Regions from separate parts of the Homo sapiens genome. Here region 2 is linked to region 1. Evidence: fine-mapped expression QTL. A gene starts in region 1. The other region holds a variant in brackets. All regions are shown on one strand. Distances are from middle to middle. Region 1 holds the start of RAB11FIP3 (RAB11 family interacting protein 3). Region 2 holds the start of LOC107987417 (a long non-coding RNA gene).

Evidence for each region. PIP is the estimated chance that this variant, and not a neighbour inherited with it, causes the effect.
Region 2: its variant is fine-mapped to the expression of RAB11FIP3 in whole blood (INTERVAL, PIP above 0.99).

The regions. Positions count from the first base shown.
Region 1 is chr16:419,636-434,866 of GRCh38, reverse strand. It overlaps RAB11FIP3 (RAB11 family interacting protein 3), which reads right to left and starts at 9,218. Exons shown (of 14, transcript NM_014700.4): 1 at 8,147-9,218. The coding sequence starts at 8,860.
Region 2 is chr16:488,065-503,295 of GRCh38, reverse strand. RAB11FIP3 (RAB11 family interacting protein 3) reads right to left here. Exons shown (of 14, transcript NM_014700.4): 5 at 14,296-14,445; 6 at 6,437-6,472; 7 at 199-292. It overlaps LOC107987417 (a long non-coding RNA gene), which reads left to right and starts at 9,756. Exons shown (of 3, transcript XR_007064933.1): 1 at 9,756-10,727; 2 at 10,971-11,227; 3 at 11,314-11,923. RefSeq lists enhancers at 7,757-8,334, 8,335-8,913, 10,372-10,993. The variant G/A (reference allele first, on the strand shown) is at 7,300.

The sequences.
Region 1 (15,231 bases):
GTCTTAAACTCCTGACATCAAGTGATCTGCCCACCTCGGCTTCCCAAAGTGCTGGGATTACAGGTGTGAGCCACTGCGTCCGGCCATCCTTAACAATTCTGAATCTTCCTGGGGACAAGTAAACCTTAGGTTTCCATTAAAGTATACATCTGCCAGGCCAGTGGCTCATGCTTGTAATCCTAGCACTTTGGGAGGCCAAGGTGGGAAGATCACTTGAGCCCAGGAGTTGGAGATCAACATGGCAAAACCCTGTCTCTATAAAAAATAGAAAAATTAGGCAGGTGTGGTAACACGTACCTGTAGTCCCAGCTACCTGGGAGGCTGAGATGGGAGGACCACCTGAGCCTGGGAGGTCAAGGCTGCAGTGACCAGTGATTGCACCACTGCACTCCAGCCTGGGCAACAGAGTGAGACTCTATATCAAAAAAATAAAGTATACATCTGGCAGGGTGCAGTGGCTCACGCTTGTAATCCCAGCACTTTGGGAGGCTGCGGCACGCAGATCACTTGAGGTCAGGAGCGCGAGACCAGCCTGGGCTAACATGGCGAAACCCCGCCTCTACTAAAAATACAAAAAATTAGCCGAGCATGGTGGCACATGCTTGTAATCCCAGCTACTAAGGAGGCTGAGGCAGGAGAATTGCTTGAACCCAGGAGGCGAAGGTTGCAGTGACCTAAAATCGTGCCATTGCACTCCAGCCTAGCCAACAATAGTGAACTCTGTCTCAAAAAATAAAGAAATTTTTAAATAAATAAATATACATCTGATATCAGAGACCTTCAATTTCAAAAAATTTAGGTCAACTACTATACAATCCAGCAATCCCACTACTGAGATTTATCCAAAGGAAAGGAAATCCATATACCACAGGGATGCCTGCACCCCATGTTTACTGCAGCACTGTTCTCAATAGCAAAGATATGGAATCAATCTAAGTGTCCATCAACAGTTGAATGGATAAAGAAAATGTAATATAGATACACAATGGAGTACTTTTTTTTTTTTTTTTTGAGACAGAGTCTCGCTCTGTCACCCAGACTGGAGTGCAGTGGCACGATCTCGGCTCACTGCAAGCTCCACCTCCCAGGTTCACGCCATTCTCCTGCCTCAGCCTCCCAAGTAGGTGGGTCTACAGGCGCCCGCAACCACACCCAGCTAATTTTTTTTTTTTTTGTATTTTTAGTAGAGACAGGGTTTCACCGTGTTAGCTAGGATGGTCTCGATCTCCTGACCTCGTGATCCGCCCGCCTTGGCCTTCCAAAGTGCTGAGATTACAGGCGTGAGCCACCGCATCCGGCCTGGAGTACTATTTGGCCACGTAAAAAAATGAAATCATGTCATTTGCAGCAACGTGGAAGGAAATGGAGGTCATTATGTGAAGTCAAGTAAGACAGGCAGAGAAAGACAAATATCACGTTTTTACTCTTATGTGGGAGCTAGAAAAGTGGATCTAATGGAGGTAGAGAATAGAGCGATTGATATCAGAGGCTGGGAAGCATCAGGAGGGTAAAGAGCACGGTTAATGGTTAGAAATATGCAATGAGCGGTGGCTCACGCCTGTAATCCCAGTACTTTGGGAGGCCCAGGTGGGCGGATCACCAGGTCAGGAGTTCGAGACCAGCCTGGCCAACATGGTGAAACCCTGTCTCTAGTAAAAATACAAAAATTAGCTGGGCATGCTGGCATGTACCTGTAATCCCAGCTATCAGGAGGCTGAGGCAGGAGAATGGCATCAACCCGGGAGGCAGAGCTTGCAGCGAGCTGAGATCGCGCCACTGCACTCCAGCCTGGGCAAGAGACAGAGACTATGTCTCAAAAAAAAAAAAAAAAAAAAAAAGATAAATATGGAGGTGACAGACACCCCAACTTGATCATTACAGTGTATGCCTGTAACAAAATACCACATGTACCCATCCCATGAATATGTACAAATATTTCTATCAATTAAAAAGAAACAGCTCAGGCTAGGGGCAATGGCTCATGCCTGTAATCCCAGCACTTTGGGAGGCCAAGGCGGGTGGATCACGAGGTCAAGAGTTTGAGACCAGCCTGGCCAACGTGACAAAACCCCATCTCTATTAAAAATACAAAAATTTAGCCGGAGTGGTGGCAGGCGCCTGTAATCCCAGCTAAGTGGCTGAGGGAGTCTGAGGCAGGAGAATTGCTTGAACCCGGGAGGCAGAGACTGCACTGAGCCGAGATCGTACCACTGAACTCCAGCCTGGGCCACAGAGCGAGACCCTGTCACACACACACACACACAAAAAAAAAAAAAAAACCAGGTCAAAAAGCAGATTCAAAGCAACATGCATGCAAATTATAACATTTATCTATAATCAAGTATGTATTACATACATTTTAATTTACATATTAAATATTTAATTATCTCTTAATGATATTAATGGATGGGGGGATTACAAGGGCTCCTTATTTTTCTTATTTTATCTACTAGTATTTTACCTACTAGTTTTAGTTTCTTTTTAGTTTTTCGAGACAGTTTCACCCTTGTCGTCCAGGCTGGAGTGCAATGGCAAGATCTCAGCTCACTGCAACCTCTGCCTCCCAGGTTCAAGCGATTCTCCTGCCTCGACCTCTGAAGTACCTGGGATTATAGGCGCCTACCACCACACCCAGCTAATTTTTGTATTTTTAGTAGAGATGGGGTTTCACCATGTTGGCCAGGCTGGTCTCCTGATCTCAGATGATCCACCCGCCTTGGCCTCCCAAAGTGTTGGGATGACAGGTGTGAGTTACCGCGCCAGGCCAGTTTCTTTTAAAACAATGAACATCTATAAAAATAATTTAGCTTCACTGGGCGCCATAGCTCATGCCTATCATCCCAGCACTTTGGGAGGCCGAGGTGGGCGGATCATGCGGTCAGGAGATCAAGACCATACTGGCTAACACGGTGAAACCTCATCTCTAATAAAAATACAAAAAAATTAGCCGGGAGGGGTGGCGGGCGCCTGTAGTCCCAGCTACTCAGGAGGCTGAGGCAGGAGAATGGCATAAACCCGGGAGGCGGAGCTTGCAGCGAGCCAAGATCACGCCACTGCACTCCAGCCTGGGTGACAGAGCGAGACTCCATCTCAAAAAAAAAAAAAAATTTAGCTTCTACCCCAATATGATCTCAATTGTGTACTTTTATAGACAGTCACCTGTGTGTCTATGTCTGTGTTAAAAAAGGTCTGGGCCAGGTGCGGTGGCTCACATCTGTAATCCCAACACTTTGGGAGGCTGAGGCAGGTGGATCACTTGAGGTCTGGTGTTCGAGACCAGCCTAGTCAACACGGCGAAACCCCGTCTCTACTAAAAATATAAAAATTAGCCAGGCGTTGCACGCCTGTAGTCCAAGCTACTCAGGAGACTCAGGCAAGACAATCGCTTGAACCCACGTGGTGGAGGTTGCAGTGAACTGAGATTGTGCCACTGCACTCCAGCATGGGCAAGAGAGCAAGACTCTATTTCAAAAAAAAAAAAAAAGTCTGAAAAGAAATGTAGTAAAATAATGGGAATGTTATTTTTCTCAGGATAGTGGGATTATTGGTCATTTTCTGTTTTATACAACCCAAGCTTCATTTGCCTTTCAGCAATTCAGTCAGCATGTAGACCCAGAATACATACACTCACCTGCTCACACACATACATAATATGCCACTTACACACAAATATCCCACTCCCACATACACACATCCCTGATCCTGCAGACACATGCTCCCACACATCTCACCGCACACACATATTACACACACACACACCAGCTCACATATGTAACTGCTCACACACACACATGCTCACTCTCATTCACACACACTTTCACTCAAATTCAAGGCTAAGAGACTGGAAATGATACAGGGCAAATAAAAGGCGATGCCAGGCTGGGCGCTACGGCTCATGCCTGCAATCCCAGAACTTTGAGAGGCTGAGGCCCGAGGACGGTCGCTTGAGCCTGGGAGTTCAATAATATGCCTGGGCAGTATCACTATACTATACTTCATCTCTACAAAAATAATTTTTAAAAATGTTTGTATTTTTAGTAGAGACGGGGTTTCACCGTCTCCTGACCTCATGATCTGCCCGCCTCAGCCTCCCAAAATGCTGGGATTACAGGCGTGAGCCACTGCACCCAGCCAATTTTTTTAAATTAGCGGAGCATGGTCATGCCTGCCTATAGTCCCAGCTACTCAGGAGGCTAAGATGAGAGGACTGCTTGAGCCCAGGAGGTGGAGGTTGCAGTGAGCTGAGATCTTGCCACTGCACTTCAGACTGGGTGACAGAGTGAGATCCTGTCTCAAAACAAACGAACAAAAAGGTGCAGTCAAATGTCCCTAGGAACTTCCTACTGCCACCATTAGCGGTGCAGGAATAAAAAAACGTAGGGAGATCTGAGCATCGACACTTCCTTCGGCAGCCTATTTCTGCAAGTACTGAAGACAGACAATGCCTACCAAGGTTACTGAAGGACATTCTCTGAAAAGAATCAGTGGCTATTAAAACGCAACTGCTTAAGTGACTGTAAAAATAACATGTAAATTACAGTTATAATCTTTAAAAACAAAACAAAATTAAAGTAATCCTTTCTCACAACACTCTTAGAATTTATTTTACAATCTCTGCTTCATGATAGGTGGCAGTAAATACAAAAGCATCAGTCCTCTCAGTATGAAGGGGTCATGTCAATCTCCAGAGATGGTTGAAGCCTTAAAAATCACCTATTCCAACTTCATACCTAATTCCTGGACACATCTGACTATAAATTCCTGTTTCAAAAAAATATAACCAGAAAGCTCCACTTGCTCCTTTCATGTGCTGATTTCTGCTAACACAACACTGTGTTATATTACACTACACCTGATCTATCACCAGATGACGTAATTAGATCCAAACACACCATGACATTGCTAAAGAAACAGGGACACAAAAGCCATCTGTATTATAAACAGGAGCTGCTTCTATTAAAAATTCAGATAATCCATTTAAATAATTTAAAATGCTACCTTCATAAACAGATTACATAGAAGATACTCAATATGCTACCTCTGAAAATTTGATAAAAATTAAGATACTTGGCCGGGCACAGTGGCTCATGCCTGTAATCCCAGCACTTTGGGAGGCCGAGGCGGGTGGATCACCTGAGGTCAAGAGTTCAAGACCAGCCTGGCCAACATGGCAAAACCGTCTCTACTAAAAATACAAAAAATAGCCAGGTGTGGTGACGGGCACCGGTAATCCCAGCTACTCGGGAGGCTGAAGCAGGAGAATCGCTTGAACCCGGGAGGCAGAGGTTGCAGTGAGCCGAGATCACACCATTGCACTCCAGCCTGGGCGACAGAGCAGGCGAGACTCCATCTCAAAAAAAAAAAAAAATTAAGATAATCTAGTTGTTATCATCAAGGACAGTAATGTGACTGGACTAAGAGTCTCTCATGTGCTCAATATTTTGAAATCTCAAGGTAGAAAGTACAAAAACTTATGACCTTTATTGCTGTTATCCAGTTAATCTGAACTGTTCCCTAGCGTTTTTAAAAAAATCATTAATGTCTTTAAAAGAATCGGTATCTTTTGGAAATATATACTGAAGCATTTATGGAAGAAATGATATAATGTCAGGAACCCACTTCAAAAATCATCTGGGGGTAGTGAGTGGTGAGTTTACAGATGAACCAAGACTGCTAAAACTGAGCAATGGCTACAGGGTTACATAACATGAAAATCAACCTTTCTTTACCCTGTAAATTATCTGTTGCCAAACAGTAACTTAGCTTTAAGAAATCAAGAGCTCTCCTCCATCCCAGGAAGCCGGCCCAAGTCCAGGCACTCAGATCACACCCAACATTGCTTCTTCCTAAGCCGTCTAGAAGAACAGACAAGGAGTAATACCACAGGAGATCCCTTCCACTTCCCCATCCTCACCAAATCCCAAGTCATCCAGCCCTTGCCCCCAACCTTCGAATTTCATCAAGAGCTCTTGGAATTCAGAGTGAAGAATTTTGTCTCATTTCTACTTTGTGATGACAAGAAAGCTCAGCCCCAAATAGCAACACAAAGTTTTTCCCATTGTGATCATTAAGGGAGGTTATGACAAAAGATGTTTCTCAAATAAAAAGAATTGTATGAAAGTCAGTAAGATATTATCACAATAGGGATATTGTGAGCCACCACATCTAAGAAGAGGCATCTAAGGTCTAAGGGCCAAAAGACCTAGTTCTACTCCTGTGAGACCTTGGGAGAGCTATCTGACCTTTCTGGGTTTCCAGTTTCTTACCTGTAAAGTGGGGATGAATCCTGCTTACCTACTATCTCAGAGAACTGTGGTATGATCCAGTGGAAACATCCTGAGCCTCACAGAAGTTCTCTATCAAGAGTTGGGTTATGGTAACAAGGAGCAAATGTGGTACTCTCCTAACTTCTTTGCTGTACTGAAGCAAGAGTATGTTTGGGAGAAGAGACAGCGCAGTAGCCAACAGCAACCAAGGGAGCTCAAGGTGCTCTCCAGCCCAGGGGCAAGAAGGAAACGCAGCAAAACACCTGGACCAGCAACCACCATCCACGCTGACCATACAGGAAAGTATCAGTCACATATTTCACTGCCCATTAGTGTAGGTGGAAAACTACCCTGACAATATCCCAACCGGAGCTAAGCTTGCGAGCATTGCAGGCTGCCCCGCACGCACCTGTCTGCACATCTTCTTAATGTGAACTCAGCAAGGAACCCTGATTTATCAGGACCCTGTGTTTTTTGTTTTGTTGCTGTTTTTTTTTTTTGAGACGAAGTCTCGCTCTGTCGCCCAGGCTGGAGTGCAGTGGCGCGATCTCCGCTCACTGCAAGCTCCGCCTCCCGGGTTCACGCCATTCTCCTGCCTCAGCCTCCCGAGTAGCTAGGAGTACAGGTGCCCGCCACCACGCCCGACTAATTTTTTTGTATTTTTTAGTGGAGACGGGGTTTCACCATATTAGCCAGGATGGTCTCAATCTCCTGACCTCGTGATCCGCCCGCCTCGGCCTCCTAAAGTGCTGGGATTACAGGCATGAGCCACCGCGCCCGACCATCAAGGTTCTTAATGTTATGACTGACACCCTAAATAGCAGTGTGCCAATTTTACCTCTTTTCTTACAGACCTCTTGGCTTAAACATGCATATGTACTTGAACACCCACTTACCAGATGTCTGCATGTGTGAGAAGTCAAAATACAAAAAATTGACAGATGCACCTTAGGGATTTCCTGCTAAGTAAAATATTTAAAAGTGAGCACTGGTATTATTTGATGTCCACCGGGTTATTGGCAGAACACACACGGCCCTGCTGTTATCTCCACTTAAACTTTATTAAGTGCTGAGGTAGACAGGAACAACTGCATCTTGGGGCCCACCTTTCCCCCAGGAGCAGGTGCCCTGAGGACCGCGTGGACCCCTTCCACACTGTACTGTGCGTAGTGCCTGTCCACGCATTTCACCTCTCCTACGAGAGTGGACGTGGCCCTAACGGAGTTCTGCTAGACTTCTGCATTTGCCAACAAGCTCCGAGGCTCATTGCCTTCCTCCCCAAAGGCACCAAAGTAAAAATTCTTAATTCCAGGACTCTCTACAAGCATTGACTGTCTCCCAAATAAAAGATGAAATCTAAGTAGAAAAGATGTCAACCACACACAGTAAAGTAATTGTACTCAAAATAGGTGTCTATCAGTAGGATCTCAAGGCGTCTGGGCAGCCTGGCCTCTGCGGCTAGAACTTGGGTGAATTCAGCCGAGCAGTATCTGGGCCCTCGGGTGGGGGAATCGCGGGGAACTTCTTCATTCAGGGGCACGTCGATCAGGCACCCTGGGGGGGTGGCGATCAGGCCCCCTGGGGGGGTGTCCCCAGGCGAGGAGCTGACCTCGGTAAGATCCAGCTGACGAGGCGCTGGGGGGAGGGGAAGAAACTGACTCCCCAGAATAGAACCTCCTTTTAAGAAGGGAAGAGGGACTCCAGCGCAATTCAACCAGAAATCCAGGGCCGAAGTGGTGAATAAGCAGAAAAAGCAGGACCGTCAGGTCTTGACAGTGCCTTTCCCGACTCCAGGGGCAGCGTCGACCGGTCCCACATCAACCCCGCCGGCCAGCGCGCACCTGCCCAGTTCCCACGCCCCGGCCCGGGCCGCTCCGTACCTGCTCTGCCCCGTAGACCGTAGCAAACTGGATGAAGTCCTCGATGCGGACGAAACCGTCCCCATCCCCGTCCAGGGCATCGAACACGGCTCGGAGGCGGGGGCCGTCCTCCTGACTCCCCACGGGCTCGCTCGGAAGGGGGTGGGTCTGGCTGAGGTCCGAGGGCTGCGGCGGGGACCCGGGACCTTGCTCCAGCGCCAGCTCGCCCGCCGTGGGCGCGGGGAAGGGAGAGAAGACGTCGACCTCGCCCCGCGCTCGGTGGCTGCTGCTGGACCCCTGCAAGCGGAAAGGCGCGCTCTCCGGGCAGCTCGCGGGGCCACACTCCTCGGGCTCCTCAGTCCAGGAGAACAACGGGTCGAGTTCTGGAAGCGGCGCTTCGGAGCGCGGCCCTGGGCCCGGGGCGTCGGGGCTCGCAAGCTGCCCCCGCGGGCCGGAGCGCGGCGGCGGGGCGGACGGCCCGGGGTCTCGCGGGCCTCCCTCCAGCCCCGGGGCCGGCCCGGCGCTCCAACGCGCCCCGCCATCTGCAGCGGCCCCGGGCGCAGGCTCATCCAGGCCCGGGGACTGCGGGTCGGGGCCGCCGACGGGCGCTCCGAGGCGTAGCTCCGCAGGGCCCGGAGCCAGTTGTGCCGCCCCCGGCCCGTCCGGCCCGCCCGGCTCCGGGTCGGGCCCCGGCGGCTCCGAGCCCGGGGGCGAGGCCGGCGGGGCCGACGCCATGCTCCCGAGAGGCTAGTGGTGCGGAAGGGCGCGGGCGGCAGACAAAGGCGCTCAGGGCGCGGCGGCGGGCGCGGGCATCCCCTCGGCGGCGCGGGCGGGCGCGCGCGGGGCGCCCGGGCTGCTGGGGCTGGCGCTCGGGCCCTGCTCTGTCCTCGCCCATCTTCGCACCGCGCCTCAGCTGCCCTCGGCCCGGCGGCGCGGCGGGCGCAGGCCCATGGCGGCGGGGCGGCCTAGGGAGGGCGGCGAGGATCCGGGCGGCGGATGGCGGGGGACGGGGGCCGAGGAGGCCGGGGGACGGGGGCCGAGGAGGCCGGAGGCCGCGGAGCCTGTGAAGCAGGATGAGGAGACTAAGGAGGCTGAGGCGCCTGAGGTACCCGGAGAACTAACGCCGCCGCCGCCCAGGCCCCGCCCCCCGTCGGGCCTGACGTCAGCACGTCCCGGCGGGGTCCCAGCCCCTCGCCGGCTTGCTGTAGAGGCAGGCGCCGGGTGTGTCGCGGCAGTGCAGCGGCCGCGAAGGGGTGTTTTGCTGTATGTCATATTCCTCGTTTCGCCAGAGCGGGGGTCCCGAGCTTCGGGCGCGGGACGCGGGGGTGCTCCGAGGCTGCGAGTGGAGGCGTGACGTGACGTCCCTGGCAAGAGGCGCGCGGAGTCAGGCCTTACTTAGAACGTGTTCCCGCCGCACAGCTACCAGCGGGCGCGACCGCTACCCACGCATGGTGCGGTCGAGTAAACGGCACCGCCTGGCGAGCGAGAGACGCAAAGGGACATAGCCCCCTAGGAGCTGAGCTCTTCGGGGGTAAAGCGTTCTCACGTTGATGAGACCAGGAGGCGGCGCACGCCTGGCTCCGCGGCCCAGGGGTTGCAGGTGCCCCAGGGTTCGCGGGGCGCAGACGCCGCAGAGGGCGACGCCCTGCCCGGGTCCCGCGCGGACCCGGGGGACGCAGGGTCTGACACGGAGTGCGGAGGGGCCCCAGACACGCAGTCCATGTCCCTTGAAACCAGAGGCACGCGCGGCCACGCGCTAGGCCTTTCCCTTAAGCCTGTGACCAAGATCTCCGGGACTCCCAGCGTTGGGACGGGCGCGCTGGCCCACGCCCAAGCGGGAGGATCGCTTGCGCCCAGGAGATTGAGACCAGCCTGAGCACCAAAGCGAGACCTCGTCTCTACAAAAAATAAGACTCAAGAAGACACCCAGGGTGAATCGCCCGTCTGCAGCCAGCCTCCCGAGCACCGTGGCCGCGTCTGACAACTGACCTCTGTGTCTGGGTGTCCCTGTCCTCAGAGGGACACGGGACCTCAGAAAGGACCACAGCCCGGCGGCAGGCATGATGGTGGGAAAGCTAGTTAGGACAGGTGAGGCACTAAATTTAGCCTGTCATAATTTGTATCAGGGAAATGATGAACTTGTATTTTTACACACCATGGGCACCAACACAAGATATGGTTTCGTAAGCAGCTTTGGCAAGAACCAAAGGAACGGAACCTCTGCTTCCAAGTGTACGGTCAGGAGCAGCGTGTTAATTAAGTGAGTCATCTTCCGTGGCAGAATCCCAGGGTACATGGGACCAGACTTCGCGAGGCTGGCATTAGGAAAAGGAATGTGAGGGATCCTCCTCCCCAAACCGTATTCTCATTTTCTTGTAAGAGCTGTACGTGTTCATGAGGAAGATACTGCATTCAAAGAACGAAATCACCAGCAGCTTTGGCAAGAATTCAAATTTGGGCTGATGCCTTCGGCCGGATAAAATTTTCAGAAGCAGTGATAGTGATGTGTCAACCTTTCTAAATAGGGGTGTTAGTGTGGGCGAGGCAGAGACAGCAGGCTCCCTCTGCTTTTATGTGCCGGCGCTGCCAGAGGCAGAAGGCTGGCTTTCTGAGAGCAGGGGCCCGCACGCTCTGTCTGTGCTAGGGCTGGAAAACGTCCATTGCGTGCCCGGCTGGTGTCCTCCATGGAACCACAGCCTGGAAGCCTGCACCTCCCTGCCTGGACCAGTTAGAGGCTGTTCATGAAAGACTAAAGGGACAAGTTCCCGTCTATCCGTCTGCTGTTCAGAGCTACTATCTGTGTCCCCTTTGTAGGCTGTGGGCTGTAGCAGTTCCTTCTTTTCTTTTCTTTTCTTTTTTTTCCCCGAGACAGGGTTTTGCTCTGTTGCCCAGGCTGCAGTGCAGTGGTGCGACCATAGCTCACGGCAGCCTCAACCTCCTAGGCTCAAGAGATCCTCCCACCTTAGGCCAGGTGTGGTAGCTCATGCCTGTAATCCCAGGACTGTGGGAGGCTGAGGCGGGCGGATCACGAGGTCAGAAAATGGAGACCATCCTGGCTAACACGGTGAAACCCCGTCTCTACTAAAAATACAAAAAAACAAAAATTAGCCAGGTGTGGTGGCAGGCACCTGTAGTCCCAGCTATTTGGGAGGCTGAGGCAGGAGAAAGGCGTGAACCCGGGAGGCAGAGCTTGCAGCGAGCCAAGATTGCACCATTGCACTCCAGCCTGGATGATAGAGCAAGACTCCGTCTCCAAAATAAAAAATAAAAATAGAAGAGAGATCCTCCCACCTCAGCCTCTCCAGTAGCTGAGACCACAGATCTGCAGCACCTTATTATCTTTTTTTTTTTTTTGATATGGAGTCTCACTCTGTCGCCCAGGCTGGAGTGCAATGGCGCGATCTCTGGTCACTGCAACCTCCGCCTCCCGGGTTCAAGTGATTCCCCTACCTCAGCCTCCTGAGTAGCTGGGATTACAGGCGTATGCCACCAAGGCCGGCTAATTTTTTGTATTTTTAGTAGAGACCGGGGTTTCACCATGTTGGTCAAGCTGGTCTCAAACTCCTGACCTCAAGTGATCCGCCCACCTCGGCCTCCCAAAGTGCTGGGATTATTGGCATGAGTCACCACACTTGGCCTCAACATGCGTTTTGGAGGGTATAAACATTCAAAGCATAGCCTCCATCTTCTCACTCTGTCCTCACATGTTGGAGAAAGATTGTCTCTTTTGGGCTGGGCGTGGGAGCTCATGCCTGTAATTCCAGCACTTTGGGAGGCCGAGGCGGGTGGATCACGAGGTCAGGAGTTCAAGACCAGCCTGGCCAAGATGGTGAAACCCCGTATCTACTAAAAAATAGAAAATTTAGGCCGGGCGCGGTTGCTCAGCCTATAATCCCAGCACTTTGGGAGGCAAGGTGGGCGGATCACAAGGTCAAGAGATCGAAAACATCCTGGCAAACATGGTGAAACCCTGTCTCTACTAAAAATACAAAAATTAGCCGGGTGTGGTGGCACCCACCTGTAGTCCCAGCTACTCGGGAGCCTGAGGGAGGAGAATCGCTTGAACCTGGGAGGCAGAGGTTGCAGTGAGCGAAGATCGCACCACTGCACTCCAGCCTGGCGACAGAGCGAGACTCCACCTAAAAAATATATGTATATATTAGCCGGCCGTGGTGGCGGGCACCTGTAATCCCAGCTACTCAGGAGGCTGAGGCAAAGAATTGCTTGAACCCGGGAGGTGGAGGTTGCAGTGAGTCAAGATCACACCACTGTACTGCAGCCTGGGTGATGGAGTGAGACTCTGTCTCAAAAAAAAAGAAAAAAAATTATCCGGGGGCGGTGGCGGGTGCGTGTAATCCCAGCTACTCAGGAGGCTGAACAGGGTAATCACTTGAGCCTGGGAGGCAGAGGTTGCAATGAGCTGAGATCCAGCCACTACACTCCAGCCTGGGCAACAGAGCGAGACTATCTCAAAAAAAAAAAAAAGGCGGGCGTAATGGCTCACGCCTGTAATCCCAACACTTTAGGAGGCCAAGGCGGGTGGATAACCTGAGGTCAGGAGTTCGAGACTAGCCTGGCCAACATGGTAAAACCCTGTCTCTACTAAAAATACAAAAACTAGCTGAGCGTGGTGGCGTGTCCTGTAATCCCAGCTACCTGGGAGGCTGAGGCAGGAGAATACTTGAACCCGGGAGGTGGAGGTTGCAGTGAGCCAAGATCCCACCATTGCACTCCAGCCTGGGCAACAAGAGGGAAACTCCATCTCAAGGAAAACAATAAAATAAAAATAAGGCTGGGCACGGTGCCTCACGCCTGTAATCCCAGCACTCTGGGAGACCGATGCGGGTGGATTACCTGAGGTCAGGAGTTCAAGACCAGGCTTGCCATGGTGAAACCCCATCTCTACTAAAAATACAAAAAATTAGCCAGGCATGGTGGTGCATGCCTGTAATCCCAGCTACTTGGGAGGCTGAGGCAGGAGAATCACTAGAACCTGGGAGGCGGAGGTTGCAGTGAATCGAGATTGTGCCATGGCACTCCAGCCTGGGCAGCAAGAGTGAAACTCCGTCTCAAAAAAAGAAAAAAGAAAAAAAAAGACTGTCTCTTCTAATAAGGGCACTGTTCCCATCGTGAGGGCCCCACCTTGCTGACCGTATCTAACCCTAATTATTATTATTATTATTTTTTTTTGAGACGGAGTCTTGCTCTGTCGTCCAGGCTGAAGTGCAATGGCGCCATCTCAGCTCACTGCAATCTCTGCCTCCCGGATTCATGCCATTCTCCTGCCTCAGCCTCCCCAGTAGCTGGGACCACAGGCACCCGCCACCATGCCTGGCTAATTGTTTTGTATTTTTACTAGAGCCGGGGTTTCACCGTGTTAACCAGGATGGTCTCGATCTCCTGAGCTCATGATCCACCCGCCTCGGCATCCCAAAGTGCTGGGATTACAGGCGTGAGCCACCGCGCCCGGCCCTAACCCTAAGTTATACCTCCCAAAGACCTCATCTCCAAATACCATCCCGTTGGCGTTAGGACTCCAATATATAAATTTTGGGGTAGCAACTGGGAAGAGAGAGTTAGAATGGATTTAATGGACAAAATATTCATTTCTAGAATACACAAAAGAATTTCTCAAAAAACAGTAAACGAACAGCAACCCGATAGAAAAACGAGGAAAGAATATGAATAAGCAGCTCCAGAAGAGGAAATTCAGGTGGCCGGTAAACACATGAAAAAGATGCTCATCTTCACTGGTCACCAGGAAAATGTGTGAGTGTAGCCCTTGACACCAATCAGAGTAAGTCTGGGGACACCAGGGAGTGGGGATTTGGCACCAGTCGTGCAGCTGAAGGTCGGAATACTCCAGTGTGGGATCCGCCTTCCAGTACCTGCCGGAGAAACTGCACATGTCCGCAGGGAGATGGAAAGACCTTGTTTCCTTCGGGGATTTGTACTTCTCTGGAAGAAGAGCCGAACGGCTTCAGTGGAGCCTGTTGTCTGTTGTGAAGTGTAGCAGTTTAAGTGAGTGCACCACATCTGCACAATTGATAGTACATGCTATGTAATACCATTTTTCATTTATTTTTTTAGACAGAATTCTGTTCTTGTTGCCCAGGCCGGAGTGCAGTGGCACGGTCTCAGCTCACGGCAGCCTCCATCTCCTGGGTTCAAGCGATTCTCCTGCCTCAGCCTCCCGAGTAGCTGGGATTACAGGTGCCCGCCACCACACCCAGCTAATTTTTGTATTTTTCGTAGAGACGGGGTTGCACCATCTCGGCCAGGCTGATCTGGAACTCCTGACCTCAGGTGATCTGCCCGCCTTGGCTTCCCAAAGTGCTAGGATTACAGGCGTGAGCCAACGTGCCTAGCCAATTTTTGTTAAGTTTAAAAACACATGATCAATGACCTATCTTGTTTTCAAATGCTTTCGTTTGTAGTAAAAAATACCTAAACATACTTGAGAATTACATTGAGGCCGTGTGCGGTGGCTCACACCTGTAATCCCAACTTTGGGAGGCCAATGGGGTGGATCACTTGAGGTCAGGAGTTCAAGACCAGCCTGGCCAAAATACTGAAACCTGTCTCTACAAAAATACAAAAAATTAGCCAGGCATGGTGGCGCATGCCTGTAATCCCAGCTACTGGGGAGGCTGAGGCAGGAGAATTGCTAGAACCCCGGAGACGGAGGTTGCAGTGAGCTGAGATCACACCATTGCACTCCAGCCTGGGTAACAGAGCGAGACTCTGTCTCAAAAAAAAAAAAAAAAAGAAAGAAAGAAAAAAGAATTATATTCAAGAGGACAGACAGAAGAGAAAGGGTGAAGTACAACTTTGACTATATCTATAACATTCATTTCCACTGGGCACAGTGGGTCATGCCTGTAATCCCAGCACTTTGGGAGGCTGAGGCAGGAGGATCACTTAAGCCCAGGAGTTCAAAAAACAAACAAAAAAACATTAGCCAGGTGTGGTGGTGCACACCTGTAGTCCCGGCTACTCAAGAGACTGAGGTGGGAGGAGCTCTTAAGACCCAGAGGTTTTTCTGGATTCCACATATAAATGAGACCATGAAGTCTTCTTTCTCTGACTGGCTTATTTCACTTAGC
Region 2 (15,231 bases), 68 kb before region 1:
TCTCACATGGCCACGAGACCCCTTGGGGAAACCTGCCAAAGAGCATCGGGGCTGGATGGACAGTCTGGGGAGCCCTGGAGGACATGGGGTCACCTCCGGCTGTGCTGTCCCCACCTCCCGGGGTGTCTGCAGCGGCCCTTAGGCGTGGCTGTGTTCTAAATCCCCTACTTGCCACCTACCCAGCCCTCCAGGGCCTACCTTGTCAGCAATGTCCTCCTCTGGGCCCTCCATGAGCTCGGGGGAAGGGTCCTCCAGGGCCTCCATGGTCAGGGCCCCTGACTGGTGCAGGTACCTACAGAAAAGGCACAACAACAGAGGGAAGAAAGGGAAAAACCACAGGACATGCTCCGTCAGCACAAGCACTCCCAAGTCAATCTGAAAAGCAGGCAGCAGCATTGCAGGGGACAGGTCCTCCCCTGATCTGGGTGGTGGTCTTCTCCCACTTAAAGCACTATATACAGGGGGAGGTCCCAGGCTGGACATCTTTACCAGGGGCTGGGAGAAAGCAGGCCGTGCTCTGTGGTCTCAGAGTCTTCCTGGCGCTCTTTGGAACCTGACAGAACATGACCTCAGTCCCAGCCAGCGAGTGGCAGAGAGGACTTTGTACTTGGCTGCAATAAAACATGCCCTTCTTCGCAGAGACACGAACAATCTCGTCTCTACCAGAGGCCTGTGAGACATCAGCTCAGGACCTTGACCTGCAGACACCTCCCCTGTGCACATTCTTGATCTCAGACTTTCACAGGTGCTTTCTGTGGCAGGAAGAGTGAGGGTCCCAGGAAAGGTGTGGATCCCAGAAGTCTCACTCAGTGTCACCCTCACGGACACACTGGGAAACTGGTCCGACCGAGTCCAGGAAGACAGCAGACACACGTGTCCTCTGTGGCACCAGCTCCTGTGGACACGCCCCCAGCACCGCAGGCCATGCCAGTTACTACCCGGGCCAGGCTCGGGGACACAGCCTCATGGTCCTGAGTAGACGCAAAGGCCCATAGGCTGCGGCCTTGGGGCAGGAGCTTCTCCAGGGAGTGTGAACTTAGGCGCGCAGTAAGCGCGTGCTTGTGGTCACCACGTGGTCAGATTCGCTGTGGTGAATCTGTACCAACCCAAACTTGCCGGGAGTACAGAAAACTCTCAGAGCACTCGCACAGAAGAGCCAACAGCAAAGGTGCGTGTTCAGTTCTTTATACATCCTGGGAACCTCAGTACCAAGCCAGGCTCCAGGCTGACAGCCTGATGCTCAGAACTGCGTGACCGTTAAAAAGCACTGGCCCTCTCCGAGCTTCCTTGCCTATGAAATGGGGGGACCCTCTCCCAGCCTCCTTGCCTATGAAATGGGGGGACCCTCTCCCAGCCTCCTTGCCTATGAAATGGGGGGACACTCTCCCAGACTCCTTGCCTATAAAATGGGGGGACCATCTCCCAGCTTCCTTGCCTATGAAATGGGGGATCCTCTCCGAACTTCCTTGTCTGTGAAATGGGGGGACCCTCTCTGAACTTCCTTGCCTGTGAAATGGGGGGACCCTCTCCCAGCTTCCTTGCCTATGAAATGGGGGACCTTCTCCGAACTTGTCTGTGAAATGGGGGGACCCTCTCCCAGCTTCCCTGCCTATGAAATGGGGGGAGCCTCTCTGAACTTGTCTGTGAAATGGGGGGACCCTCTCCCAGCTTCCTTGCCTGTGAAATGGGGGGACCCTCTCCCAGCTTCCTTGCCTATGAAATGGGGGACCCTCTCCCAGCTTCCTTGCCTGTGAAATGGGGGACCCTCTCCGAGCTTCCTTGCCTATGAAATGGGGGGACCCTCTCCCAGCTTCCTTGCCTATGAAATGGGGGGATCCTCTCCGAGCTTCCTTGCCTATGAAATGGGGGGACCCTCTCCCAGCTTCCTTGCCTATGAAATGGGAGACCCTCTCCGAGCTTCCTTGCCTATGAAATGGGGGGACCCTCTCCGAGTTTCCTTGCCTATGAAATGGGGGGACCCTCTCCCAGCTTCCTTGCCTATGAAATGGGGGTCTAGAGGCAACTGAGGTTTAACCAAGGTCATGCATACAAACAGCTTGGCTAGGGACGTAGCAGAGTAAGAATTCCATAAAATGTTAATATTTTTCCACTGAAAATGTCTACCAAGTGTATGAAGTTCGATTTGCTTCTCAGTACGGACTGGGCTTGAACATTTCCATCTTTTTCCCCATAAACGCTCTGAGGAGACAAGCCCTGTGAACGTGCACCAGCTGGAACACACCGGTGCCCTTCTGGGGCTCTGGGGATTTCATCAGATTCTCAAAAGCTGCTGCTGATACAGATCATGTTCTTGGCCAGTCGCTGCTCTTAAACGCCCATGACCTTGCCCCCAAACATGAGCCACTCCAGGCATGAAGCTGCAACCCAGAGCCCATCCTGAGAGGCCACGACCTGTCAGCACTTCTGAGCTGTCCTAGAGGCGTAGGCACTTCTGGGGCTGACTCGGGGACACAGCCATCCCCAGGCACCCAGCGTGCAGCCACCACACGTGGCCACCAACGTGAGGCAGAGGGTCCTCAGCATGGGTCATGCGGCTGCTTATTTATTTACTTATTTAATTTTTTTTTTTTTTTTTTTTTTTTTTTTTGCGACAGAGTCTTGCACTGTCACCTGGGCTGGAGTGCAGTGGTGCAATCTCAGCTCACTGCAACCTCTGCCTTCCGGGTTCAAGCCATTCTCCTGCCTCAGCCTCCCAGGTAGCTGGGATTACAGGCACCTGCCACCATGCCCAGCTAACTTTTTGTATTGTTTTTTTTAGTAGAGATGGGGTTTCACTATGTTGGCCAGGCTGGTCTCAAACTCCTGACCTCGTGATCTGTGCGCCTCGGCCCCCCAAAGTGCTGGGAGTACAGGCGTGAACCACCGCGTCCGGCTGGGGCTGCTTATTTAAATCCCCTAGAAAGAGGGATTCTCCAGCTACACCACACCCTCACTTGGAAGGACCCTCCTCCCAGAGAGGGAGCTGTGGAAAAAGCCTGACCTGCCCCACAGGGCAGTAGGTCGAGCCTGGCTGGTGAGCAAGGAGGTACGGGGATCCCTGAGGCCTCCCACCCAGGGCCCAGGGAGCCTGCCTGCTGTGAGCACTTCCTCCAGTCCTGATGGACTCGGCTCTGCCCGGAGCCCCCGGTCTCTGCACACACAGCTGACTGGAGAAAGCCACTTCCATCTCATGGACAGGGACAGAACAAGGCTGAGGGAGGTGAGCAATGCAGCCAGGCCCGGGGGCTACAATGGCTGCTGGCAAAACCCACCATCTCAGCAATAGTTCAGCGCGAAGGGCTGAGAACTGTGAGAAGCGAATCGCGACGTTTATTTTGCTCTTCCTTAGCCTCTTGTGGCAGATTTGGGGCAAAACAACAGATTAAATCTTGTGTACATATATTTACATGTGGATAGACACACTGCAGAAGAGGTCTCTGTTTTGTAAACTCTAACGACAGATAACTGCAGATGGAGCTTTTTTTTTTTTTTTTTTTTTTGAGACAGTCTTGCTCTGTCGCCCAGGCTAGAGTGCAGTGGCGTGATCTGGGCTCACTGTAACCTCTGCCTTCTGGGTTCAAGCAGTTCTCCTACCTCAGGCTCCTGAGTAGCTGGGATTACAGGCATGTGTGCCACCATGCCTAACTAATTTTTGTATTTTTAGTAGAGACGGGGTTTCACCATGTTGGTCAGGCTGTTCTTGAACTCCTGACCTCGTGATCCACCCACCTTGGCTTCCCAATGTGCTGGGATTACAGGCGTGAGCCACTGCGTCCGGCTCAGATTGGGCTTTTTTTATGCCAAAGGGTACCCGTGAAGGAAACATTAAATTTTAAAGGGTGTTTCTGACACAAGGCTGTGACAGCCAACTGCAGGCTGCGCCCCATCCTAGGCACGGGAGGCCTCAAGCAGATGCCTTAGCTGGCCTTGACCGGTCTTTCATGTCACCAGCTGCAGCCTGTCTGGAGTAAAAGACTTGATGAAGCGGGGAGGAAGGTGATGCTGAAGTGGTAACAGAAGTGTAGCTGGGGATGCACGTCACGTTCCTAAGAGCTCAATGCTTCTCTTTTTCTTTCTTTTTTTGAGATGGAGTCTCGCTCTTGTTGCCCAGGCTGGAGTACAATGGCACAATCTCGGCTCACTCCAAGCTCCGCCTCCAGGGTTCAGGTGATTCTCCTGCCTCAGTCTCCTGAGTAGCTGGGATTACAGGCACCTGCTAACACACCTGGCTAATCTTGTATTTTTTTAGTAGAGATGGGGTTTCTCCATTTTGGCCAGGCTGGTCTTGAACTCCCAACCTCAGGTGATCCACCCACCTCAGCCTCCCAAAGTGCTGGGATTACAGGCGTGACCTACTACGCCCGGCCAGCTCAATGCTTTTCTGAAAGGGGTGAGCAAGAAGACAGTTAGAAAAAGATGCATGATGACGTTCACCTCTGCTTCCTCTAGCCCCTAGCCCCTAGCCCCTAAAATGACAGAAAATGGAAAACAAGTGGGACGCGGTGGCTCCTGCCTGTAATTCCAACATTCTGGGAGACCGAGGTGGGAGGACTGCTAGAGCCCAGGAGTTCAAGACCAGTCTGGGCCTGTCTCTACAAAAAATTAAAAAATCATCTGGGTATGGTGGCATGCGCCTGTGGTCTCAGCTGCTCGGGAGGCTGAGGAGGGAGGATCATTTGAGCTTGGGAGGTCTGGGAAGTGAAAACTATTGAGAGCTGTGATGATGTCACTTCACAGAGCAAGACAGAGCAAGACTGTCTCAAAAAGAAAAGAAAGCCAAGAAAAGAGAAGAGAAACAAAAAGAAAAAAGTTTTCATCCATGGCCAGGTGTGACGGCTCATGCCTGTGATCCCAGTACTTTGGGAGGCCAAGGTGGGAGGATCCCTTCAGCCCAGGAGCTCAAGATCAGTCTGGGCAACGTAGTGAAACTCCATCTCTATTAAAAATTAAAAGACTAGCCAGGCATTGGCAATGCGCACCTGTAGTCCCAGGTCCTCAGGAGGAGGAGGTGGGAGGATGGAGTGAGCCTGAGAGGTCCAGGCTGCAGTGAGCTGTGATTGCACCACGGTACTTCAGCCCAGGTGACAGAGCAAGACAATGTCTCAAAATAAAAGAAAATGGAAAACAAAAGGTTTCTGTTCTTGGCTGGGTGTGGTGGCTTACCTCTGTAATCCGAGAATTTTGGGAGGCTGAGGTGGAAAGATTACTTAAGCCCAGGGAGTCTGGGGCTGTTGTGAGCTATGCTTGCACCTATGAATTGCCACTCACTGCACTACAGCCTGGGCAACGCAGCTAGACCTTGCCTATTTTCCTTTTTTTTTTTTAATTTTTAATTTTTAATTTTTTTTTTTTTTTTGTAGAGACAGGGTTTCACTAAGTTGCTCAGGCTGGTCCCAAAGAAACCGAGTCAGAAAGGTTAAACTTCATGGTAACAACTTTAGCTCTAGAAGATAAGCAATGCCGTCAAAAATCTTACAGGAAAATGATCCCACTCTCACAGTACAAACCAACCCAAGCTCAAGTTTATCTCCTGAGCACCTCTTTTCTCAAGAAGCTACAGGAAGATACGCTGGACAAAAACCAGAGAAAACAAATGAGAAGGAAGACGGGGCCAGGGAGCTAGAGGATCCAACCCCCGAAACAAAGGAACCCACCAGTGTGGGGAGACCTGTCCAGGACCACAGCCACGAGGCCTGGAGAACGCCCGGCACAACAGGGCAGAGAGGAGGCTCCAGAGGGGATGCTCCAGAGGAAGCTGGAGAGGCGTCTCCCAGCCCTGCCAGATGCCGGGCCACGAAGCAGGACGGGGACTAGGAAGGCAAAGCAGATAAAGACACAAAGGCAGACTCTGACGGCAGCAGAGGCCACCCGGCAGCCACACTGAGTGGCTCCCTGGGAAGGGCCTTAACCCTGCATGTTTATTTCGGTAAGAACTGGCAGGGGAGGAAGATAAAAGTGTATGTTGCCATCTTTCACAGCAGGAAGCCAACAGATCTATACGAAGCTGGAAAATGAAGAAATGGTCTTTAGGAATTGGAGTCAGACCCATCCCTCACCTTCGACTCACCTTGGGGAGCTGCCCAGACCCGGCTCTGAGAAGCCAGGCTCCTCACTGGGTCTCGCTACCTCAGAGCTAACATAGAGCAGACATCTGGGGATGGCGGCCCCTTCCAGACCTTAGTGAACACACAAGAGGCCCAGCACCAAAAGCTCTGACACGTACCCTCCCTGGTCACAAATCCAGGTCCAAATTCACAGCCCTGGAAACCCCTTTCCCAACACTCCTTCAGGATACCTTCAGCCCCAAACCATGTAAAGTAACTTGCAAGAGTTTAAAAAATACCTTGGAAAAGAACATTTTAAAATGTTTTTTAAAAAACTATGATTAATTATCCACTTCAGAACGTTTTTCAGCAGGAACCAGAGACCCACCTACCTTGCCACCTTCTTGCTGGAGAGCCGCTTTGTCGGACTGTGCAGAAAACAAAATAAACAGGAAAATTGTTAGAACAGACAGAGAGGAGCAGGAGGAAGCAGGAAACTCAGGCTGTGGAGATACGAGGTGGGCGGCCTTTCAGCAATGCTCCCGGCATGCAGGGCCCCCCAGGCAAGTCCATGCACAAATGCTCACTCAGCAAAACAGCAAGGACACGGCAGTGCTGGGGTGAGGCCGCATACGTCTCGTTACTCCAGCCCCCAAAGAGGCTTCCAGATGCAGCCACCCCAGACCACGACTGAGAGGCCAGCGCCACACCTGGTCCCACCCGCTGGCTGCACTGTCCCAATGCTTCTGAAGCCAAATTACCCCCAAACGCTTGGCCTTCGGAGGCCCCCAAGTGAAAAGTGACCCAGGCCCCGCTGTGACAGGAGAGTTTGCCGCTGGCTTCGACTCAGGCACTGATGCATCATGCTCAGAACGCCTGCCTAGGCATCAGTTTGGAAACCTTTCCCGTTGCCATTTCAGGGCAGTAAATATAGCCAATTATACATCAGCTGTCTGATTTAACCATCTGCAGTGGCACATGGGCCAAACTTACCTTCTCCCTCATTTCTGAGGTCCAAAGTTGTATTTTACAGTCTAGCTGCTGAACTATTAGCCTCAGCCTGCAGGAAGACACCCTCACCCCTGGGGCCTGGGAACCATCACGGTCCTGGAACTCACAAAGCCACGTCTCTCTTCAGCTTACCTGTCTCAAAAACACCTCTGATTTTCTTTCCAGGGTCAGGCAGAAAAGTCTACTGGAGGGGCCGGGCGTGGTGGCTCATGCCTACAATCTGAGCACTTTGGGAGGCTGAGGC[G/A]GGTGGATCTCCAGAGGTCGGGAGTTCGAGACCAGCCTGGCCAACGTGGAGAAACCCTGTCTCTACTAAAAATTCAAAAATAACCGGGAATGGTGGCGCATGCCTGTAATCCCAGCTACTCGGGAGGCTGGGACAGGAGACTCGCTTGAACCCGGGAGGCAGAGGTTGCAGTCAGCCGAGATCACGCCACTGCACTCCAGCCTGGGCAACAAAGAGTGAAACTCTGTCTCAAAGAAAAAAAGAAATCTACTGGAGGAGAATCAGCTGCTGTGCCAGGTATTAACGTAGAGCCCCTCAGCTCTAAGTCCATCCTTTTTACTTGCCCTGTAGAAACAGAGCTGGGCCCTTAGCAGGCTCTTCCTCCACAATGCTGCGTGTCATCAGCAGAGGGAGCCGAGGAGTGAACACAGCAGGAAGAGGTTTGCCTCCTGGTTCTGACCACTCTCTGCAGGGCCCTCCGACACCTGCAGTCTCCCCAGTACCTACTCCAGGGAGCATCCTGCCCACTGTAGCCAGAGCCAGGGGCTTCCCCGACCCCATTCGGGTAGCTGTTCTCTAGGGGTGCCTCTGCCAAGTGTCCTGCAACAGAATAGCTTTCCTGGCAGCCAGGAGGCAGGTTCCCCACAAGCCCTGACAGCACGGTGGTGTCCCCACCACGCCGTTTGCAGCTGGTGCAGACCTCAGCCCTGGGTGGCAGTGACTGTAGCTGGGGGGCTCTGCCCCGGCCCTGGGTGGCGGCTGCTCCTGTGCCTGCTGTCCCTACACTCTGCAGAGTTCTTTTTACTCATCCCAACCAGTGCCTCATTACTCCCATAGCCTGTGACATTCTTTTCCTTTCCCTAATGATTTTTTAAATTTTTTGTTTGTTTGTTTGCATTATCTTTTCTTAGAGGCAAGGTATGACTCTGTGGCCCAGGCTGAAGTGCAGTGGTGCAACCACAGCTCGCTGCAGCCTCGACCTCCCCGGCTCATGTGATCCTCCCACCTCTGCAGCCTCGACCTCCCCGGCTCATGTGATCCTCCCACCTCAGCAGCCTCGACCTCCCCGGCTCATGTGATCCTCCCACCTCAGCAGCCTCGACCTCCCCGGCTCATGTGATCCTCCCACCTCTGCAGCCTCGACCTCCCCGGCTCATGTGATCCTCCCACCTCTGCAGCCTCGACCTCCCAGGCTCATGTGATCCTCCCACCTCTGCAGCCTCGACCTCCCCGGCTCATGTGATCCTCCCACCTCAGCCTCCCAAAGCACTGCGATTTCAGCCCACACTCAGCCCATTCTTTGTAGTATTAAACTGTCCCTGTTCAAATTACTGTGTGGCTCTCCTTTCTCGACTGGAGACTAATAATGTATATTTTAATACAGGTTTTTTTTTTTAAGATGGAGTCTCACTGTGTCACCCAGGCTGGAGTGCAGTGGCATGATCTCGGCTCACTGCAAGTTCCACCTCCCGGGTTCACGCCATTCTCCGGCCTCAGCCTCCCGAGTAGCTGGGACTACAGGCGCCCGCCACCACGCCCGGCTAATTTTTTATATTTTTAGTAGAGATGGGGTTTCACCGTGTTAGCCAGGATGGTCTCGATCTCCTGACCTCGTGATCTGCCCACCTCAGCCTCGCAAAGTGCTGGGATTACGGGCATGAGCCACCGCACCCAGCCTTAATACAAATTTAATTTTATCTTATTATTGTTGAGACTCCCTAGAACTAATAGGACAGGACAGACTCATCGTTCAGTTTACCTACTGACCTTTCAGGGCCTGGACTGGCAGCCCAGCAACAGGATTTATAATTGAAAATACACCTCCAGGTGGCCAGGTGCGGTGGCTCACACCTGTAATCCCAGCACTTTGGGAGGCCGAGGCGGGCGGATCACGAGGTCCGGAGATTGAGACATGGTGAAACCCTGTGTCTACTAAAAATACAAAAGTTAGCCAGGTGTGGTGATGGGCGCCTGTAGTCCCAGCTACTCGGGAGGCTGAGGCAGGAGAATGGAGTGAACCCGGGAGGCAGAGGTTGCAGTGAGCCGAGATCGCACCACCGCACTCCAGCCTGGGTGACAGATCGAGACTCTGTCTCAAAAAAGAAAAAGATAATATACCTCCAGGCAGGCTGGGTGCAGTGGCTCAGCCTGTAATCCCAGCACTTTGGGGGGTCAAGGCGGGCGGATCACGAGGTCCGGAGATTGAGACATGGTGAAACCCCGTGTCTACTAAAAATACAAAAGTTAGCCAGGTGTGGTGATGGGCGCCTGTAGTCCCAGCTACTCGGGAGGCTGAGGCAGGAGAATGGAGTGAACCCGGGAGGCAGAGGTTGCAGTGAGCCGAGATCGCACCACTGCACTCCGGCCTGGGTCACAAAGCGAGACTCTGTCTCAAAAAAAAGAAAAAAGAAAATATACCTCCAGGTAAGGCACACTTCTTAGTTCCTACAAAATGAAATGTATTTAGAGGCTGCAGGGTACCTGGAAAATGCAACAGCTATTGGCCTGTTCTGAGGCGACTGGACATCGTATCTGACATCAAAGCTTCCAGAGGTGGTCTGGACTAAGTCACCTGTTGCCACCCACAAAGCATGACCAAATAAGCTTACTTTCAGGCAAGTCCATGGAAACTAAAACGCAAGATTCAGATCTCCTCCACTAAGGGTTATGGGGAGGATGTTCTGACTGGCAGTTGTGTGTCCTGATTGTGTTGAATTGAATAGCATATTAACCACTTGGTAGAGTCTTTTTTTTTTTTTTTTTTTTGGAGTCAGAGTTTGGCTCTGTTGCCCAGGCTGGAGTGCAGTGGCAGGATGTTGGCTCACCACAGCCTCCACCTCCTGGGTTCAAGTGAACCTCCCATCTCAGCCTCCCAAGTAGCTGGAACTACAGGCATGTGCCACCATGCCTGGCTAATTTTTATGTTTTTAGTAGAGACAGGGTTTCGCCATGTTGGCCAGGCTGGTCTCAAACTCCTGGCCTCAAGTGATCTGCCTGCCTCCTCAGCCTCCCAAAATGCTGAGATTACAGGCGTGAGTCACTGCGCCTGGCCCGCTTCATAGAGTCTTAGGAAAAGGGGTAGCAGAACCTGGACGTGAGGCTCCACAGGACTTGCTAGTTGTACTTAGCTACATCCTAGTCCCTTCTCTGCCCCCACAAAGCCCAGCAGAGGCGACCATGGCCATCTTGGAGCTAGTTCTCAATGTGGGAAAAAATCAGTTCTATGTCAAAAATCTTCAGAAAATGAGAGACGAGACCTGAGTCTTCAGGCTTACTTTCATGTACGGAGATGACATGCTTGCACTCAACTTATCGGTGAGTGGGAGGGCAAGTCTCTGCGTGGGAAGAACAAATGGCCCCTCCCCAAGCAGGCTGAGCCATCGTCGCCGGGCCTTGAACCCCTAGCTGAACACACACGCAGGCAGAAACTGATTTCCCCTAAAACAGAGGTTAGCGGATCTTTGGAATCCAAGATTCTGGACGGCCTCGGGTCTCCCGGGAGGGCCCTGGGCGGCCTCGGGTCTCCCGGGAGGGCCCTGGGCGGCCTCGGGTCTCCCCGGGAAGGGCCCTGGGCGGCCTCGGGTCTCCCGGGGAGGGCCCTGGGCGGCCTCGGGTCTCCCGGGGAGGGCTCTGGGCGGCCTCGGGTCTCCCGGGAAGACCCTCTTCAAAGAGCACTTCTGCTTTCTCACCAGTGCTGCCAAGACCCCCGATGCTCCAGAATGGCCATCAGTGCCGGGCCCCACCCCCATCCTCTCCACCTGAATGGGCACTGGCTGGGGGCCCTGTGCTTCACAGCATTTCACAGAACATAAGAAGAGTTAAGTGCCCTGGAAATGGAACTAGAGGCAGGACAGAAGCCTCAATAAGGCCGTGGGCAGTGAGCGCCCGCCAGCAAGGATGTGCCTCGGCAGAAGCCCCCTGGGGCAGGGACAGGGCAGGCTCAAGACAGGTAAGCAGTTTCACAGATACCTCTAAACATGCTAGAACCGTCAGGATAACTCACCTTTCTGCCACCTTTACAAACCCTCCCCACAGGCCAGGTCCCGTTCTTCAGGAAGCCGTCCCAGATTGCCAGCATGAGCCTGTATGCTCACTCACCTCTTCTGCTAGGCTAGGGCTGCTGTGGAAAGCTCCAAAGTGGCCCGTTTCTTCACCAGACCCTTCTGGAGAGCTGCCCACCCAGGGGCTTCACCGCAAGCGAAATCAACACGATGCCCAACGGGCACGTCAATATGTGCAAAGCACTCAAAACCGTCTTCTGTAACTGGGAGTTAGACATGAGGGCCAGCCACAAGAGCTCCCCTGCTGAGACACAGTGAGCTCCCTCACACGCTCACTGTGAGTATTCAAAACTCCATTTAAACTGACAATCCTGAAAGCTGTTTACATATCTGTTCTTAAAGACTAAATCTTTAACTTTCCCAATTCTGTCTCATGAGCTCAATGAAAGAAATCTTTTAGTAAAATGCAGAAAGTATCCTCTTTCACACACAGGACAGACAGCACAGCTTGCAAAGACCGATCACTTCCTCCCACCAAGACAAGCACTGGCCTGGGCTGCGCATGCAGGGGAGGAGGCAGGGCCCTGGTGGCCCCACAGCGTGCAGGGTGGGAGGCGGGGCCCCAGGGAGAGTCCCGCTGCCTGAGAGGCTCCTGGTCGCCTCGGGGCAGGCCCTCAAGGGGGCTGTGGGTATCCGGAGTCCCCCACACCCTGGGAACAGACAGCAAGGCCAGGCGCTGGTCAGTTACCTATTCATTTCAAGATCACTCAGGCGGGCAGAAAGATCCTCAAGGCGGTTGATTTGTTTGTGGCACTGGCTACAGTAAAACTCAAACGCCTCATCAGTGAGGATGCTGTGCAGCTTTGCGGCAAGAGGGTCAGTGCTAGAGAGACAGAAGCATCCGTTCAGGAGAGGATGAGGACCCGTGTGGTCATCTGTGACTCCGCACGAGGGGCCGAGGGGAACAGGACAGGACATGGTGTGGAACAAAAGCACGTGGAGAGAGAATGAGCTGTGCAATGTTCTGGCTCTTGCCTTTAGACCGCAGTGAGCCCACATCCCTCAGCTGCCTCCAGGAGCCCAGGACAGGCACCAGCTCGAGCCTCAGGGGGCCCTGCACACACCTGCTCCTCTGGGTCGGGTGCCCAGAAGAAAGCAGGGGCAGCCTGAGAGCCTCCTTGCAAAGCAAAAGCCCTTCTTTAACAAGAAGGTAAAAAACCATACTGCTTTCTCTTTTGCCAAAAACACATCAATGTGATAGCGAACCATGTCTCCGGGTAAACTTGTACTTACTGTACTATATTTATGATTACTCCAAAAACCACCTCTAGCAAAAACTATGCATGAATGATAAATCTACAATAGTTTTGTGATTTTTTAAGATGTGCGTTAAAGCCGGGCATGGTGGCTCCTGCTTCTAATTCCAGCACTTTGGGTGGATCGCTTGAGCTCAGGCGTTTGAGACCAGCCTGGGCAACATGGTGAACCCGTCTCTACAAAAAATACAAAATTAGCCCGGCGTAGTAGCTCATACCTGTAGTCCCAGCTACTCAGGAAGCTGAGGGAGGTGGAGGCTGCAGTGAGCCATGATTGCACCACTCCAGCCTGGGCAATAAAGTGAGATCCTGTCTCAAAAAACCCCCAAAAAGACCGACCTGTCGAAACTCAGTGTTAGATTTTGTGGTGGTGCTAGCTAACCTCCCTGTGACTTCACCTCCAAGGGCTTCTGGGCCACTGGCAGGGGTGCTGCGTCTGCGACGCGAAGGCAAAGGAGCAAAGGCAGCCTCATCGCGGGCGCTGGGACCCACATGCTGTGGGAAACCATTTGGAAGCTCAAGTAAAGAAAGGTGAAAAGTGAAACATACAATGTAGCATAGACATTACACTTCAAACAGGTAACAATGAAAACACTGAACAGGAGACAGGGACAAACTAAACACGTAGGAAGAGGTGATTACCAAGCACAGAGACCCAAGTTTAGAAACGCCCCAGTCCTCTGGCCCTTGTCTTGACACCACCACGCGCTGGGAGAGGAAAGTGCCTAAGACAAGCACACTGCCTCTGAGGACCGTCTGTGATGCCTCACTCATGCACAGCTCTCCCAGGACGCTCGCCGGGACCAGAGCACACAGGATATCCGTGCAGGGTCCCCACACCCAGGGCTGACGGGCGGCTTCAAGGAGGGCACATGGGAAACAAAAGGAGGGGGACCCTATGGGCAGACGAGCTGCTCAGCCCCTCCTGCACCGCCCTCCACCCAGGTTCCCTGGGCCTCAGTAACAGCGGGCGGGCAGCAGGCAAGGGAAGACTCTTGTGGCTGCTTAAAGAGGCTCGGCCTTGACTGCTGGCAAAGATGGACGACAACCTAGTAGCAAAGGGGAGAAGGGATTGAAGTAACAACCCCATCGGCCAGCCCAGGGTCTCCCTGAAGTCAGGAGCGTCCTAGAGGGACTGACTCCCACGTGGGAGCCCCTAGCCCTCAGAAGTACGTACCCAGACCCCCATGTTCGGATCCAAGCCAAGAGGACTCTGGACTCCCTAGAGTGACTCTGGACATTTGTGAGTGGGCATCTCGCCCACTGCGTGTTGTGCTTCTATTTATTCAGAGTCACAGCTTTCCAGTTTGGGGATGTCAGATATTTATAAGGAAATGAATCTGAAGACTCACTTATGATCATGAGGCCTCCCTCAAAAGCCTGCACAGACCACCATGTGATCCACGGCCCACAGCAAAGGAGCCCGCAAGCCAAGTGTGCAAACACAGCTCTGTGCCACAGGATTTTGCTGAAGCCTCAGAAATGTAGAGTGATCTGGGGATGTGGCTGGAGAAGAGGGACTTCTCCCAACTTTCATAAATCCAGGTATAAATTTAAAATGTTTGAATATGGTTTACTTAATCACATGACGTCAAGGAAAGCAAGTTCTCTCACCAATGCACGAACCAAAAAGGGAAACTTCCCACTACTAACCACGGGAAGAAGAGGGAGGAGGGTGTGCTGGAACAAGGCGTCATTACCTGGGCGTGAGGAAAGCGGGGTCACTGCAGCCCAGCTGCCCGTTGCATAGGGTCTCTGGGGACAGCTCCGCCTCACTGCCTTCACCGTAGTCCTCAAAGTGCTCCTCGCCCCCGATCACCGTGATGACAGACTGGCCATGGGGGTGAGGCCTGCAAAGTAAAACAGAAATGATGTCTTCTGACTGAAGGCCAGGGCACCCCCGAGCTGAGGGTGTGGAAGGTGCTTTCCATAGGGTGTGCTACAAGCCACACGTGAGTCCTGGGAGCCACGTTTAAAAAAAAAAAAAAAGTGGGCTGGATGCGGTGGCTCACACATGTAATCCCAGCACTTTGGGAGGCCAAGGCGAGCAGATGGCTTGAGCTCAGGAGTTTGAGACCAGCCTGGGCAACAGGGGGAGGCCTCAACTGCAAAAAACATTTTTAAATCACCCAGGCATGGATGCGCACGACTGTAGTCCCAGGTACTCGGGAGGCTGAAGTGGGAAGATCGCTTGAGCCTGGGAGGCCAAGGCTGCAGTGAGCAGTGATGATGCCACTACACTCCAGCCTGGGTGACAGAGCAAGGCCCTGTCTCAAAAAAAAAAAATAAATAAATAAATCTGTTTCTTTACCTTTTTTTTTGAGACAGAGTCTGGCTCTATCGCCCAGGCTGGAGTGCAGTCGTGCAATATCGGCTCACTGCCAGCTCCGCCTCCCGGGTTCACGTCATTCTCCTGCCTCCACCTCCCGAGTAGCTGGGACTACAGGCGCCCGCCACCACGCCCGGCTAATTTTTTGTATTTTTAGTAGAGACGGGGTTTCACCGTGTTAGCCAGGATGGTCTCGATCTCCTGACCTCGTGATCCACCCACCTCGGCCTCCCAAAGTGTTGGGATTACAGGCGTGAGCCACCACGCCTGGCCCGAATATATTTTAACAAAAAATTTTACTTAGCCC